Homo sapiens: one gene and its partners. The protein of the gene in region 3 interacts with the protein of the main gene of each other region in a pairwise test. Each region holds a gene or a part of one and is shown on either strand. Other genes may lie near its edges.

What was found.
Region 1: the proteins of CCDC180 (region 3) and MLH3 interact in a two-hybrid assay, tested with the Homo sapiens proteins (one large-scale study listed by BioGRID and IntAct).
Region 2: the proteins of CCDC180 (region 3) and DLC1 interact in a two-hybrid assay, tested with the Homo sapiens proteins (one large-scale study listed by BioGRID and IntAct).
Region 4: the proteins of CCDC180 (region 3) and PDGFRL interact in a two-hybrid assay, tested with the Homo sapiens proteins (one large-scale study listed by BioGRID and IntAct).

Annotation. Positions count from the first base shown.
Region 1 is NC_000014.9:75,030,811-75,034,837, forward strand, and holds part of MLH3 (DNA mismatch repair protein Mlh3), read right to left. Parts: intron 2,681-4,027; coding exon 2,609-2,680; intron 1,370-2,608; coding exon 1,258-1,369; intron 1-1,257. UniProt on the Homo sapiens protein: Probably involved in the repair of mismatches in DNA.
Region 2 is NC_000008.11:13,098,487-13,102,513, forward strand, and holds part of DLC1 (rho GTPase-activating protein 7), read right to left. Parts: intron 2,285-4,027; coding exon 861-2,284; intron 90-860; coding exon 1-89. UniProt on the Homo sapiens protein: Functions as a GTPase-activating protein for the small GTPases RHOA, RHOB, RHOC and CDC42, terminating their downstream signaling.
Region 3 is NC_000009.12:97,324,282-97,328,308, reverse strand, and holds part of CCDC180 (coiled-coil domain-containing protein 180), read right to left. Parts: intron 3,291-4,027; coding exon 3,117-3,290; intron 1,756-3,116; coding exon 1,640-1,755; intron 290-1,639; coding exon 163-289; intron 1-162.
Region 4 is NC_000008.11:17,587,045-17,591,071, forward strand, and holds part of PDGFRL (platelet-derived growth factor receptor-like protein precursor), read left to right. Parts: intron 1-2,423; coding exon 2,424-2,721; intron 2,722-4,027.

The DNA of each region.
Region 1 (4,027 bases), on a different chromosome or scaffold from region 3:
TTAACAACCGTATTGTTTTTCTCACACTTATGTGTGGGTGTTTGGGATTTTTTATTATCAAATTTCCTTTTTGAATTACAGTAACCTTTATTGTTTTTCTCTTTTCCATTGGGAATCAATCTGTGTCTAAGTCTTGTTTCTAAGTGTGTTTTCTTCATTGAGGAACTGCTAACTTCTGGCTGCTGGCACTTAAGGGAGTCTGGCATGAAGAAAAGGTCTGAGAGTGATTTGAATCAGCATTAAAGCAGGGAGGTAATTAACAGCCCAAGGAATTGAGAAGTCCTGACTAACGGGATGTAAGTAAATAGATCTGCCTCTAATATAAATTATGTCATAGGGAAAAAAAGATTTACTGGCAGTATCATATTCCCAAACCTGAAACATATTGGGAGAAATTTCTTTTTCATTTTCAATAATTTGTGCTGCCTAGAAGAGGAAAAATATCCTATCTTGTGACTCACTATATGATTCGCCCCTTCCTTACATCCCAATGTTTTACTTTCTTCCCATTATGATTACGATAATGAAAACTAAGAGTCTAGAATGCACCAAAGCAAAGCAGAATGGGACCAATTACTGCAGAAACTTTGCTTTCACAAAGCATGGCATAAACACAGACTGTTCCAAGAAATGAGAAGAGTGTTCTAAGCCAACTGCTGGAAAAAATTATCAGGGAAACTCTATCCTATACTCTTCAGCTGGGATACAGTGGAAAGAATAGGCTGGGTCCAGTGGCTCACGCCTGTAATCCCAGCACTTTGGGAGGCCAAAGTGGGAGGATCGCTTGAGCCTAGGAGTTCAGACCAGCCTGGGTAACATGGCGAAAACCCATCTCTACCAAAAAATTACAAAAATTAGTCCAGCATGGTGGTGCTCACCTGTAGTTCCAGGTACTTGGGAGGCTGAAGTGGGAGGACTGCTTGAGCCTGGAAGGTGGAGGTTGCAGTGAGCAGAGATTGTGCCACTGCACTCCAGCCTGGACAACAGAGTGAGACCATGTCTCACAAAATAAATATTTTAATGGATGATTGGATGCAGAAAAAAATATATTTTAAAAAAGGAAACAAACAGCCTGTGGAGTCAGACGACCTGCCTTTGAGTGCCTGCTCCACTACTTAATAACTGCTATGACCTTAGACAAGTCTTGTAACCTCTCTTGGTCTCATCTGAGAAATGGAACAATAGTTATGCTTATTCCTCACAGAATTATTGTGAGAATTGATACCATCAACATCACATTCTCATGGTGGTACTGACCATAAGAGTCTCCTTTGTTCCTCTGTCACTGTTATCTCTAGCGGAGGAATTAGAGTAGAAGACAGTAATTTTTTCCGACCAGAGCCTTGTGCCTGTTGCTTCTCGTAGGAATCTATTGGCAGAAAGATGAATGGGTTAAGAGTAGGAAGGGAAGTCTTCTAGATTCAGATAAAAATAAAGCACGGCCTTGAGATAATCATTCTAATGCAAAGCAGAATGTTTAATGTTCAGTTTTAGATTTTGGATTTCCATTTTTAAAGTCAAACTAATAAATATTCAGCCTATTAACAATTTTGGTAGTATTTTTCAAAATAAGAAATATAAGACTTGCATCTTACATTCAGATGAACAAGCCAATGTTCCTGTAGTTAATAAATGTTGTTTTGATGACAGAGGTGAATAATGTGGATTACCAGGAACATATGTGGGTTGACCACACAGTCTTATGGCTCCAGAAGGCTTCCCTTTCCTTGAGCAGGGTCTCCCAGTCTCTGGAGAGAATTAGTACTATTCTCAAATGGTGCAGGGCCTGTAGAGGTAAGTTTTTCTAACACTGTTTTTACTATATCTTTCCCAACTCTTAGGCCGTCATTTTATAAGGAAAAGTGAAAACAGTAGTAATATCATTGCCATTCTAGTCCATGAAGCACTCCTTAGGTCCTTGCCTAACTCTTTGACATTACTCATTGGCCACAGGAGTAAAGACTTTCCTGGTATTTTACCACTTGGTGAACACACTGCCTCATGATGAGGAAAAGGGTAGCAAAAAAAAACATTTAAAAAGCATATATTGCTTTGGAAAGATAGATTTAAAAACCAGAGATATTGGTTGTCTCTGGGGAGAGAAACTAGGAGGGGTGGGGACAAGGATAGAAAGGAGACTTTATTATATTCCCTTTTGTGCCTTTCAGAATTGGATCTATTTGATTATACTGCATATTCAAAAGCAAACTAAATTTTAAAATCAAAACAGCATACTGGGCCTTCTGAGCTGCCACTGGTCTCTGCCTGATGGAGTGTGGGAAGGCATGCCAAGATCACCGGGCATATGGAGGGGCAGAGCTTTGTGCTGGATGTCAGAGTAAGCAGCCTATCCTTGCGTACTTCTGGGTTGTTAATAACATCTGGCAAATATGCCTCTGACCACATAAATAAGTTCACATCTTTCAATTAGTGAACTACCACATTCTTTCAATTATAACACAGGCCAAACTGCAGGACTTTAGTTTAATTTTTGAACATACAGTACAAAGTGTGCTTTCTCACAACAGTTGCAGTTAGAAAAGCTCTTTGAGGTGTACTGATTCTGCTGGGAGTCTCAAATTTTTTCTGGCTGCAAACAGATCCTTACCAATGATAAGCTGCTCCAGACGTATACGCTCATGGGCAGCGTGCTGATCCACCAGCACGAGCAGGTTCCCACCTAGATGAGCAAGGATTGTGAACTTTGATTCTCAGAGCAAGACGACAACCATCATGTGTGTTGAGGACAGAGAAGACTTAATTCAAACTATCTAACAACAGCATAAGACAAAACATTCTGAGGAGTAACAATTGTATCTTTTATTTCCTAAAACATGAAATTATGGGGAAAATGATAGCAAACTTATCCCATATGTTTGAATCCCAGATCCAATTCTGAAAGGCACAAAAGGGAATTTAATAAAGTCTCCTTTATACTCTTGCCCCCACCCCTTCTAGTTTCTCTCTCCAGAGATTACCAGTATTACTAATTTTTATCCTATAAGTTTTATTATTTTCCCCATAATTTCATTTTTTAGGAAACAAAAGGTAAACTAAGAAACTCTTTAGTTCACCAGCATCTCATTTAGAAAACATAGTCAGGGCTGGGTGCAGTGTCTCACACCTGTAATCCCAGCACACTGGGAGGCTGAGGCGGGCGGATCATGAGGTCAAGAAATCGAGATCATCCTGGCCAACATGGTGAAACCCTGTCTCTACTAAAAATACAAAAATTAGCTGGGTGTGGTGGCACGCGCCTGTAGTTCCAGCTACTTGGGAGGCTGAGGCAGGAGAATCGCTTGAACCCAGGAGGTGTAGGTTGCAGTGAGCCGAGATTGCACCACTGCACTCCAGCCTGGTGACAGAGTGAGACTCCATCTTAAAAAAAAAAAAAAAAGTCAAAGTGGCATTTCCTCAAGTTTGAAGCTTGAATATATAATTCTTATGTTTAAATACTGATTTTGCCTTATTAATTCAACTTTAATATGATAAAGGATCGTTAAACAACACATTGTTATAATCAGCTAACCTTGGTGTACAAGCTACTTGGAAACCCACAAAGAATGTACTTCCAGTGCACTTTAGATCACAAGCCGGAGAACGTTTTCTGAAGGGCCAGATCATAAATATTTTAGGCTTTTTGGGCCACACGATTTCTGTCATGCCTACTCAACAATTCTTTTTGAGCCAAAGCAGCCATAGACAATATGTGAATATCGTAGCTGTGTTCCAATAAAACTTTATTTATGGACACTGAAATACTAATTTCATATAATTTTAATGTGTCAAGAAATAGTCTTCTTTTTTTTTCCCAACCATTAAAAAATGTAAAAACCATTCCCATCTCCCTGGCTGTACAGAAAGAGGTGATGCCCAGATTCCCCTCGGGCCATGTTTATCCTGCCTTAGACTTGGGCTTCTCAAACGTTCATATCACATACCCCCTGGGGATCTTATTAAAACACAGATTCTGGCTGGGCCTGTGGCTCATGCCTGTAATCCCAACACTTTGGGAGGCTGAGGAGGG
Region 2 (4,027 bases), on a different chromosome or scaffold from region 3:
GGGCCACAGACTGGCAGTTAATCTGTAGTGATACAGAGTTGAGGCTTGGCCGATGTGAGCTCTGGAAACTGTGCCATCTCAGTCGGTGCCTGCGAGAGAAGAGGAGAGGAAAATGAGTGTGAAGCCTTTTTATTTGATTTTATTTATTTTATTTTTTCTTGCTCTGTTGCCCAGGCTGGAGTGCAGTGGTGCCATCACAGCTCACTGCAGCCTTGAACTCCTCAGCTCAAGTGATCCTCCTGCCTCAGCCTCCTGAGTAGCCAGGACTGTAGGCCTGTGCCACCACATCTGACTCATTTTTTAATTTTTTGTAGAGATAGAGTCTCCCTATGTTGTCCAGCTTGGTCTCAAACTCTTGGCCTCAAGTGATCCTCCCACCTCGGCCTCCCAAAGTATTGGATTACAAGTGTGAGCCACTGTGCCTGGCCCAAAGGCTTTTTAATAGGTAGAAGCAACATTAGCAATGGGCTGCTTGCTGGCATCTTATCTTAGGAACTGATAGGACTTGATTTCTATCCCATGCTTTAATCCCCATTATGGGAAAATATACACAATATAAAGTGCACCATTTTCACCATTTTTAAATGTGCAGTTGAGTGGCACCAAGTTCATTCTCATTGTGTGACCATCTCTGCCAACCATCTCCAGAACTTTTTTCATCTTCCCCAACCGGAACTCTATACCCATTCAATCCTATCGATTTCTTTGAATTTTGGTGCTTCCTGGTTTGACACCTTCCTTAGGAATGGACATGGCTAAGAATGCCAGACTTAATCCCATTTCTTCCCACAGAACAAGCACAGGCAATGTCTTTCTGACCCCCAGTGCCCCACACCCGGAGGCAGGAGAAAAGTTCTTACCTGTTGGACCTGGTTAGGGAAGCCCCAACCCCAGAATCCCTTCTTTCCGGGATCTCGGAGGGCTCTTCCGGTTCATTCAGGGAGTTGCCTGTGCTGTCCAGGTCGCTGGGTGTGGTTCGGTCGTTGTCCACATCCAGGTGTATCTGTTTTGGAGAGGACGGGCAGGGAGAGACCGAGTCCAGGGCTGAGTCCGAATCTCCCTCATCAGAAAACTTCTCCGACCACTGATTGACTATCCGCTGCATCCCCTTCACGTGGTAGAGGATGTCGTCCAGCTCGGGGAAGATGTCCTCGTTCTCCAGATCCGCCAGGTCCCCTGAACTGGAGTAGAGGATGGAGCCCGGCACGTTGTCGTAGATGCTCAGGCGGCTGCTCATGGAGCTGGAAGAATTGCGTCTCTTCAGTTCCTTGGGGCTGTCGCTACTGTTTTCCCTCCTGAGGCTGATGTGGCCAGGGCCGTGGAAGCTTCCCGTCCTCCAGTTCACAGAGCCGTTATTCCCCGAGGGGGAGAAACTGCCATTGGTGAGAGCTTTGGGGAAAGTGCCAGGCTTGTGATCTTCAGGGATGTAGAACACCGTGTCCTCTGGGTAGCTCTCGCGGTTCTTAAAGTTCTGCTCCACCACGTTGTTAAATGTTGACTGATTGAAAGGATCGAAGCCCTCTAAGTACATGCCCACCCGCTTGTTGCACGCACTGAGGCTCCGGGTCCTCGTAACAGGGCTGGGCGTGCTGACCGCGCTGCTGGTCTCCGACTGGCTGCTGCTGCTGCTGGTCTGCGTGGAGTTGGAAACGCTCCTCTTTCGTACCATGGGGACGTTGATGCGGTTGCCATTGAGGGCGGAGATCTCCACGCAGTTGAGCTGCTTCAGCTTCTCCTCATCCATCCCCTCTTGCAAGATGGGCCCGCTGATGATCAACCCCAGCTTTGAGGGCGCTTTGTGCTTGCTGTGATGGGAGCTCTTGAGCTTCAGGCTCTCCATCCGTTTCAGCAGACTGCGCGTCTTGGACTTGGCAGTTTTTTCGTGGCCTTTCATGCTGAAGCTGAAGCTGGACAGTTCCTTGGGAGAGGGCAGGCTGCCGAAAGAGTCGTCATTGCCTGCCAAGTTGCTGGAGGAGCAAACGCTGATGACGGAGTTAGTCCGGGGGGTGGCAGCATCCTCGCTGGGGGGCGCGTGGCTGGGGAGGCTGCCAGTGCTGCTGAGGCTGCGGACGGAAGACACCTCCTGGCGCTCGCTGAGGTCCATCAGCGTGCCTCCGGGGCTGGGGCCGTCCTTCGGGTGGGAGTCGTCTGGGGACCCAGGGACCAGGTCTTGTTTTGGAGAAAAGACATCAAACTCTTCAAGCCGGGACCACCTCTTGCTGTCCCTTTGGAAAGTCCATTTGCCACTGATGGCACAAGGCTCATCCTCGTCTGAATCGTCACTCTGCAAAGACAGAAAGGAGCCATTCACACACTGGGGCTGGCAGCCAGCAGGGAGCAGGGCATGAGCAGGAGGCTGCTCATAATATGCCAGTAGTATCAATTTCCCCCTTGTACTTCATGATTTTAATTTTAAAGTTTTTTTTTTTTTTTTTTTAAAAATAGGGTCTCACTCTGTTGTACAGGCTGTATTGCCCAGGCTGATTCTGAACTGCTGACCTCAAGTGATCCTCCCACCTGAGCCTCCCAAAGTGCTGCGGTGACAGGGATAAGCTACTGTGCCCAGCCCCACTTACATATTCTTTTTCTTTTTTAAATTTTTTGTAGAGAGCAGTAGTCTTACTATGCTGCCTAGGCTGGTCTCAAACTCCTGGCCTCAAGCGATCCTCCCACGTGGGCTTCCCAAAGTGTTGGGATTACAGGCATGAGCCACAGTGCCCGGTGTTTTGTTTTGTTCTTTAAATAACAAAGATGTATTTAAAGAATTTAACAGGAGAGTGCCTGACCAAATGTTGCAAGTTAAATAAGAACTATTTTATGGAAACTCTGGGATCCATAGGCTGTTCTTTAATTGCTCATAGAGGAAACCTCTGAGATGGTGAAAATTCCAGGCATGCAAAATATTTTGAACTGAAGTCAGCAATGAGCAGGACTGCCTCTGGGCTGCCTTCCATTGTGCTGTCTTTTGTTGGTGTATGTTTATATTCCCTCTTGCAATTAAAAAGGTAGTTTTCAAACACTAAGAAGAGTGGCAACTTAAATCTCTAGACACTAAAAATGTATAAGGTCTCCCACTGGAGTAAAGGGGCCCTGGATCAAGGTGGGTCATCAAGCAGATTCAGTCCACTATCAGTGCTTTGGAGACTCTTACCAGTACCTTTTCTTCCCCTCCCCCACAAGACATGAAGGCTAGCGCTCAGGCCACAGCTGACCTGTGAAGTTTCAACCTCAGTCATGCTCCAGCCAATTGAACAAGGCTTCACAAATACCCAGCCCTGACAGCTCGCGGCATTCATAAACACTAAGGAACGTCTTTGCTGATTATGCCCGATTTATGTACAGGACTCAGGGATAAGCTGTCACACGGACTATTGCATCTTGGCCTTTTCGGCAGGATATCAAAGGGCACAATTCGGTATGATACATGTCTTTTCCACTGGTGTGGAAAATATCCTGTGGCCCAAGTTTCACAGGACAATGAGTGGCAAGCATGGAGCGCTGGCTTCTAGGACTCTTCTGCATAGCTCAGTGGGCGCTGAGGTTCCAGTTCATTTGTTTAAAAGCTTTGACTCCCCAAGAAGGCAACTTTTTGCAGCTCAGGGATTCTGGCATAATTAAAATTTGAACCCGGAAGTCAGAAATATGTTCTTTGACCAGACTCATTCCTGTTTACTCTAATTTGTGACACTTACTCCCAGTACTACACCCACCTCTTCTCCTAAGATCTCATAAAAAGTCTTCACAACTCACACGCAGAAGAAAATACCATCCAGCTCGGTTGTGTACCACCATTTGACTAAACTGTGTGGGATCTCCTGCCTTCTCCTCTTCCTCTTCCAATTCCTTTCCTCCCTCCAAATCTCTTATTATTCTTCAATATTGCACAAATCGGCCTTCGCTTTCATCTCTACAGCTTTGAAGCACAGTTATTGTTATATTTGGGAAGACAGAAGAGTTGGAAATAAACCTCAGTTTATTTCCTCTATGAGCAATGCAAAAATCCACTGGGATTCCTTAAGCATGATCC
Region 3 (4,027 bases):
GATGGTCTCTTTAGAGACACTTTCAGCTTCTTTCTTCTTGCATTGATTTGAACTCTGCAGCATTAGGAATGGCTTTCAAAGTCTAGGCAGATCATAACAAGAAGTCAGCCTCTCCCTTAGCTTCTTCATGAGTGGCTGGGTGTATCATCACCCTCTCCATACCTGTTCAAAGATTTCACGCACAAAGAAGTATTGGCTGAGGGCAGAGCTGTAGGAGTTGAGTTCTTTCAGCATGATCGCTGGGTACTCCATCACTTCCTTTGTCAGGAGGGTGTGAAAACATTCATACCTGGGAGGTAGGTAGGTAAGACAGGAGACCCCAGCTAGGAACCACACCCCTGACCCCAAGGAGATGGGCTGCAATCTGGCACACAACTCTGTGTAGAGCTGCTGTGTGGCTGCTCTTTTATAGCAGCAGTCCTTGGCTATGCTATTTTTCTGATCATACGAGAAATACATACTTTTTGTAGAAAGTTTGGAAAACACACACAAGAGACTTTTCTGCTTGTAACATGAGCTCCCTTTCCCTGTCCAGGGTCCTAACTCTGTCTTTGGTCTTAATGCTGTCCTCGAACTTGACGGTACCTACATTATTCCATCAAACTCGCAAATGCCCCAAGGTCCAGACTTCTATTTCTCAGAGAAGTAGACCAAGGCTCATAGGGTTACGTACTTGCCTAAAGTAATCAGAATTGCCTTCTGAATCTAAGTACTGCAATCAATTGGCAGTGTCGTTCTATTTCTGTGAACAGTCCTTACAGAATCAGCTGTACAAAGTCACAAAGATGCAAGAAAGTTCACAGAGAACTGCTTGTCATATTGAGAAATTGGAACCAATAGAAAACAGCTAATCAATTGAGGGATTGCTAAACCATTATGAAGTATCTACATTAATGAATGCTACAAGGCATTTAAAAAAGGAAGTATATCTGTAGTTATGGAACAATTTGCACGGTATAATCCAACCTTTATTTTAAAAACACTATGTATGTGTATATATTCATATATATAAATGTATATGCCCATAAAAAAGGAAAAGTGGGCAGGAATGAGGGAAAAAAATCTCTATATGTTTGCAGTGGTTAACTTCTTTTTCCCCCTTTAACAAGAATGTACATGTTTAAATTTTTTTTTGTTTTTGAGACAGAGTCTCACTCTGTCACCCAGGCTGAAGTGCAATGGCATGATCTCCTCTCACTGCAACCTCCGTCTCCTGGGTTCAAGTGATTCTCCTGCCTCAGCCTCCTGAGTAGCTGGGATTACAGGGACCTGCCACCACATCTGGCTAATTCTTGTATTTTTAGTAGAGGTGGGGTTTCACCATGTTGGCCAGCTTGGTCTTGAACTCCTGTCCTCAGGTGATCCATCCACATCTTTAAATTTTTAAAAGAAGGCCCCATGTTCTTGAACTTAAGCTGCATTGCTTTGAAACCTCCCTCCAAAAACTTTAAAAAATTCTCCCTGGAAGCTTCTTTGTTGGCTGAGAGTAGAGCTGCAGAGGGCCACATGCTTTCTAAAGTGAGAGGCACAATTTTCATCTTAAGCTGGCAGGCTCCTGGGCTCTTGGGCAGGCTGCCCTTGACCTTGAAGATGAATTCCTGACCATCCCTTCCTGCCTTCTGGAGTCTGGTTGGCCTACCTGGATTTCATGTTCTTCAGATAATCTTTGACCTTTTCCAGGTGAAACGCCAGTGTTTCTTTGTCACTTTGCTGCCTCAGTTGGTCCAAGAGCCTATCGAGGTGGGCCTCCTGCACCTGGAAGCCACCCCCAAAACAAGAGGAAGCAGATGTGACCTCCAGTGCTCACAGAGTGTAAGTGACCTGCAGGGACCCTGCTGCTGGAACTGAGGCCCAGGTGCCTCAGCAGACCCAGGACTTCCTTTCTACAAATGGGGTACCCAATCTGCCACCACCCTCCCTCTCTCCACTATAGCCCTCCAGACTTTTCTCTGCCTGCAGTGTTCTTCCCTGCCCACATCATACCCCTAGGGAACCAGCTCAGATGGGACCCCCTGGAGACAGGGCCCTCACACCCGCCCACCTGGTCAGGCCTGCACTACACCTGCTCCTCGCTCTTCTTCTCACCAGTCGTGCTTGAAATCAGAAGCTGAGTTTGTTCCCCCACCTCCTGGACTGTGTGAGAGCAGGCAAGGCAGGGGCCAGCTGACCTCCTGTGCAGGCAGGAGATTGCCCCAGTTATGGAGCTTTGAAATGATTCCCAACACGTGCACAATTTGCTACATGAATGACATGTTTGTCTGTAATAAGAACTTGGAGTGTCTTCCCCTTTTTCTTTCAGAATGTGATGTCTTATCAGACCCCATATAGGAGAACTTGGAGTTATTCCCCCCACTCACCTTGGGAATGTGATGTCACCCTTAACAGCCCCCCATATGTGAGTTAACCTTAACTACTGGACTTCGAAATACTCAAGAGTTTGACACTTCAAGAGCTTAGGCTGAGGCAGGTTTCACTCTGTCAGTGGCTTCTTTGAATGAGAGAGAGCTCAGGCTGTGATAGGCACTGGGGCTATGAAGCCATGCCACCAGCACCGGCACTACCCTCTGGCTTCCAGGGACCTATGTGCCATCACAGATGTCCACTGTGTTCGCTTGCAAGCCAGTTTCTCCTGAGAAACCGCACATAGAAAGGCACACCTGAAGCTTTTATTAGACTTCCCATGGAAGCCTGCATCCATCCTTATTGAACAACTAGACTTTAATAGCTTTGCAGCTCACAATGTGCCTAAAGTACCTTGTCTACTCCCTGTGGATGTATTCCTTTTGAGGTTGGTTCATGTTATTCTCCCCCTCTTTAAGCATTGTGAACCTATGAAAAAATTCTCTTTCAATGGCAATAAAGTGTGTGATTCGTGATACCATCCTTTAATCGTCTCCTCACTTGAACCATCTGTCTGTCTCTCATGCATGCTCTTAGAGACACATTTGGTTCCAGGAGATTTCTGCTACTCCCATCTGATCCCATGACCAACGTGAGCCTCAATGTCCCCATCTGCACAAATTTCATAGCTTAAGGTTCTCCATTTGGGTCAAGGATCTGTTTGAGTTCATTGCTGTTTGTGGTGTGAAACATGGAGCCCCGGGTGTGGGTCTCACCTGGCTCTCCAGGCTGTGCTTCTGCCGGTGCTGCTCCATCCTCTTCTCCAGCTCCAGCTCCTGCACCAACAGCTCGCTCTGGTGTGCCTCCCACAGTTGTACCACCTCCTGGAAATACTTGAAGAGGTGTGAACTCTGCCACTCTGTCTGATCTGCCAGAGTCTCGAAGGATTTCTGCAGTGGCAGAGCCCAGAGAAGGGACTTAAGGGCTGACAGTCCCAGGGCCAAGAAGAGGGCCCACCTGTGGGACCCCCTGTCTCTAACGACTGAACAGTATTGCCCAGACACCGTCCCTCAAGGTCAACTTCTAGGCCACACCTGTGCTCTTGGTCCTCCCTCCCTAGGGCAGCGTTTCAGGTCTGCCCAAGGCCCTGCCCTTGGTCTTGCTGACCCTCAAGTCCCATCTCTAGACATATCCTGTGCTCCACAAAAGTCTCTGACAGGAAGAAGATGGAGTTTGGGCCATTCCTAAAAACCAGGCTGGGCACTCAGGAGGCCACAGCAACACTGGCCTGGGCATCTTTCCTTCTGTGGAGTTCCCTCACTCATGGCATCTGGGCCAAACACCACACCTGCTGTGAAATCCTCCACACCACCCACCTTTTAAAAAAATGTACGTGTCTTATGCCCTCATCTGGGCCAGGGGTGGGCAAGCTGCCACCTGTAGACTAAATTTGGCCCTCTACCTGTTTTTGTTTGGTCCTGTGAGCTACACACAGATATTCCAGTTTTAAAATGGCTGGAAAATAATCAAAAGAAGATATTTAATGAGATGAAAATTACATACAATTCCAATTTCAGTGTCCATCAATAGTTATTGGAACACAGCCATGCCATTTGTTTCTGCATGGCCTAGGGCTGCTTTTGTGTGGCACTGGTGGAGCTGACAAGGTGCGTCAGAGACCTGATGG
Region 4 (4,027 bases), on a different chromosome or scaffold from region 3:
TCTTTTAAACAGTTAGACATGGGATTTGGGAGTCACTCAATTCCAATACCGTCTGGGTATCTGTGGGGACACTAGGCTGGCTCCTTTAGCTTTGCATCATTGCCATCAAACCACAGGCCAATTCTGTGGTCAGGCAGCTGGACCAGCTATACAGTTAGATCAGCTGGTGGGGCTATTTGGTCAAAAGGTCAAATTATTTTGCATAGATAATAGCAAATATTTGGATGCATAATCTCCAAAATCAGATAATCTCATGTTCCTGAGTAACATAGATACACAAGATGTGATAGCTTAGAAGGATCAGACAAGTAGCTCTGTTTGTCTAAATTCCATAGGATTTACAGATGGTTATTGTCATTTCTGGTAGCTTGAATTCCTGTTACATGATACACAGAATACCAAATTAGACCTTAATCCAGAGGTTCATTAATTTCACAGGCATTAAAGTATTTATGGGGCACAGATTTCTTGGGCATGATAATGGTGGGCTTTTCTTTCTTTCTTTCTTTCTTTTTTTGAGAGAGAGTCTTGCTCTGTCACCCAGACTGCAGTGCAGTGGTACAATCATAGCTCATCATAAACTCGGACTTGTGGGCTCAAGTCTCGGTCTCAGTCTCAGTCTCCAGGCATTGGAGTGCAGTGGTGTGATCTCGGCTCACTGTAACCTCCGCCTCCCGGGTTCAAGCAGTTCTTGTGCCTCAGCCTCCCGAGTGGTAGCTGGGATTACAGGCATGCGCCACCATGCCTGGCTAATTTTGTATTTTTAGTAGAGATGGGGTTTCGCCATGTTGCCCAGGCTGGTCTCAAACTTCTGACCTCAACTGATCCACCTGCGTTGGCCTCCCAAAATGCTGGGATTACAGGCATGAGCCACCACACCTGGCCTACAGTCCCCTATTCATTCTTGTTGAGTGGACACAACTGTGTGGCTGCAAGGGGCTTAGCTGAGATTTTTAGAGTCCGGTGGCCCACCACAGGCAGAACAGTGGGGGCACTCTTCCCTGGATGCAGGCAATAAGGGTGCCTTACTTATAGAGAAGGCAAAAATGACAACAAAAGCAACTTAAAGTCAGTTAGCTTTTTATTATCACTATTTGCCAGCAACTCTCAACAATGTTGGTGATAAAATACTCCTTCCCCAGAGACATTTTGTTGGTGAAATTCTAAATCGTTGCTACAGTTACAGTTGAGTTTTGATAATTTATATGTAAGCTTCAGATTAGTATACACATAATATTTACTCTTTAATAATAAGCATTTTATTCTACCTAGACATCGCCAGCCCCTGACAAATGTAATGTCTGCTTTACCATTTGTTTTGAGAGAAAGTTCACTGTGGTTCAAAATCTTGGCTGGGCAGAGTGGCTCACACCTATAATTGCAGCACTTTGGGAGGCCTACGTGGGAGGGTTGCTTGAGGCCAGGAGTTTGAGACCAGCTTGGGCAACATAGCAAGGCCCCATCTTTAAAAAAAAAAAATTAGCTCAGCATGGTCTCACATATGTGTAGGCCTAGCTACTCAGGAGGCTGAGGCAGGAGGATCACTTGAGCCCAGGAGTTCAAGGCTACAGTGAGCTAGGATCATGCCATTGCATTCCAGCCTGGGTGACAGAGTGAGATTCCGTTTCTAACGTTAAACACAAAATATTTTGCGTGCACTTTCAGCACAGTTTGTGTCCCCAGTCTCTGTGGAGCTACAGATTTCTGTGTTTAAACAGTAGAATCAAAATGAATGGTGACAACATATAGACTGCAAAGTAAACAAACAGCCTTGAATGGCTTCAGTTCTGCTGTTTTGTGTGACTGCTTGGAGACTATGAGACGGTGTGAACTACAGGCAGTAATATTTTTGTTTTCTAAGGGCAAATTTTAGCTCATACATGAACTGTTTTGCTGAATTTGAATAATATCTTTGGAGCTGAAATATTTTTTAATGTTTTAAAATTAATCAAAAGATGATAATTACATGACTTTTACTGAAAACAATATTGACATATGAGGAGGGGAGGATTAAAAAGTTATCTTCTCTAGAGTTACCTAAAAGCTATGAGGGCTGGGCATGGTGGCTCACTCCTGTAATCCCAGCACTTTGGGAGGCCAAGGCAGGTGGATCACCTGAGGTCAGGACTTCGAGACCAGCCTGACCAACGTGCTGAGACCCTGTCTCCATGTCTCTACTAAAAATACAAAAATGAGTTGGGTGTGGCGGCGGGCACCTGTAATCTCAGCTACTCAGGGTGCTCAGGCAAGAGAATCACTTGAACCTGGGAGGTGGAGGTTGCAGTGAGCTGAGATTATGCCACTGCCCTCCAACCTGGGCAATAGAGTAAGAATCTGTCTCAAAAAAAAAAAAAAGTTATTGGCCTCAAATATTCCAAAAATGTCATTACTACAGCGCATTTCTCTCTCCTTACGTTTTGCAGTTACTGGCCAACACCTTCCCAAGAACAAGCGTCCAAAAGAACCAGGAGAGAATAGAATCAAACCTACCAACAAGAAGGTGAAGCCCAAAATTCCTAAAATGAAGGACAGGGACTCAGCCAATTCAGCACCAAAGACGCAGTCTATCATGATGCAAGTGCTGGATAAAGGTCGCTTCCAGAAACCCGCCGCTACCCTGAGTCTGCTGGCGGGGCAAACTGTAGAGCTTCGATGTAAAGGGAGTAGAATTGGGTGGAGCTACCCTGCGTATCTGGACACCTTTAAGGATTCTCGCCTCAGGTAAGCATTTTTTTTTAAAACTGTGTAGGGTTGAGGATTTGTAATAGTTAACAAAATTCCTTCTTAACTATTATTACACATTGTTTCTGACATGTTCCATTTTACCCTAATAGATCATAAAAATAGAAGCTCAAAGGGCAAAAGTCACAGATTTTATTTCTTTACCCAGTTAATAACAATTGCAGGCCGGGTGCGGTGGCTCATGCCTGTAATCCCAGCACTTTGGGAGGCCGAGGTGGGCGGATCACGAGGTCAGGAGATCGAGGCTATCCTGGCTAACCCGGTGAAATCCCGTCTCTATTAAAAATACAGAAAATTAGCTGGGCGTGGTGGCAGGTGCCTGTAGTCCCAGCTACTCAGGAGGCTGAGGCAGGAGAATGGTGCGAACCTGGGAGGTGGAGCTTGCATTGAGCCGAGATAGTGCCAGTGCACTCCATCCAGCCTGGGTGACAGAGAGCGAGACTCCATCTCAAAAAAAAAAAAAAAAAAAATTGCAAATCCTACCAACATTTGCTGAAAGAGTGAAATTTTACAGGAAACCATGTGACAAAACCATATGACAATTTTCTATGAAAATGTATGATGTGTGGAATTTTATGGGAAACCAAAATGTTATAGAAAACTATTATGCATAGAGATGGATGTTTAAAAATTCATATTGTGTGGCCAGGTGCAGTGGCTCATGCCTGTAATCCCAGCCCTTTGGGAGGCCAAAGCAGGCAGATCACTTGAGGCCAGGAGTTGGAGATTAGCCTGGCCAACATGGTGAAACCCCGTCTCTACAAGAAATATAAATTAGCCAGATGTGGTAGCATGCACCTGCAATTCCAGTTACTCAGGCAGAGCTGAGGCAGAAGAGTCGCTTGAACCCGGGATGCAGAGGTTACAGTGAGCCGAGTTCGTACCACCGCACTCCAGCCTGGGTGACAGAGTGAAACTCCGTCTCAAAAAAATAAAAAAAAATCATACCGTGAAAGTTAATGGACTCAATGTTTTATGTTGTTTTTTTAAGTAATCATAATGAAAACTGAAATGACCTAACAGGAGATTTCTGTGAGCAACTTGACCAGATATCAACTTCAACTACTTTTCAACTGCTTCTCATTATTATTATTATTATTAATTTTTTTTTTTTGAGACGGAGTCTCGCTCTGTCCCACAGGTTGGAGTGCAGTGGTGCCATCTTGGCTCACTACAAGCTCCGCCTCCCGGGTTCACACCATTCTCCTGCCTCAGCCTCCCAAGTAGCTGGGACTACAGGTGCCTGCCACCACGCCTGGCTAATTTTTTGCTTTTTTAGTAGAGA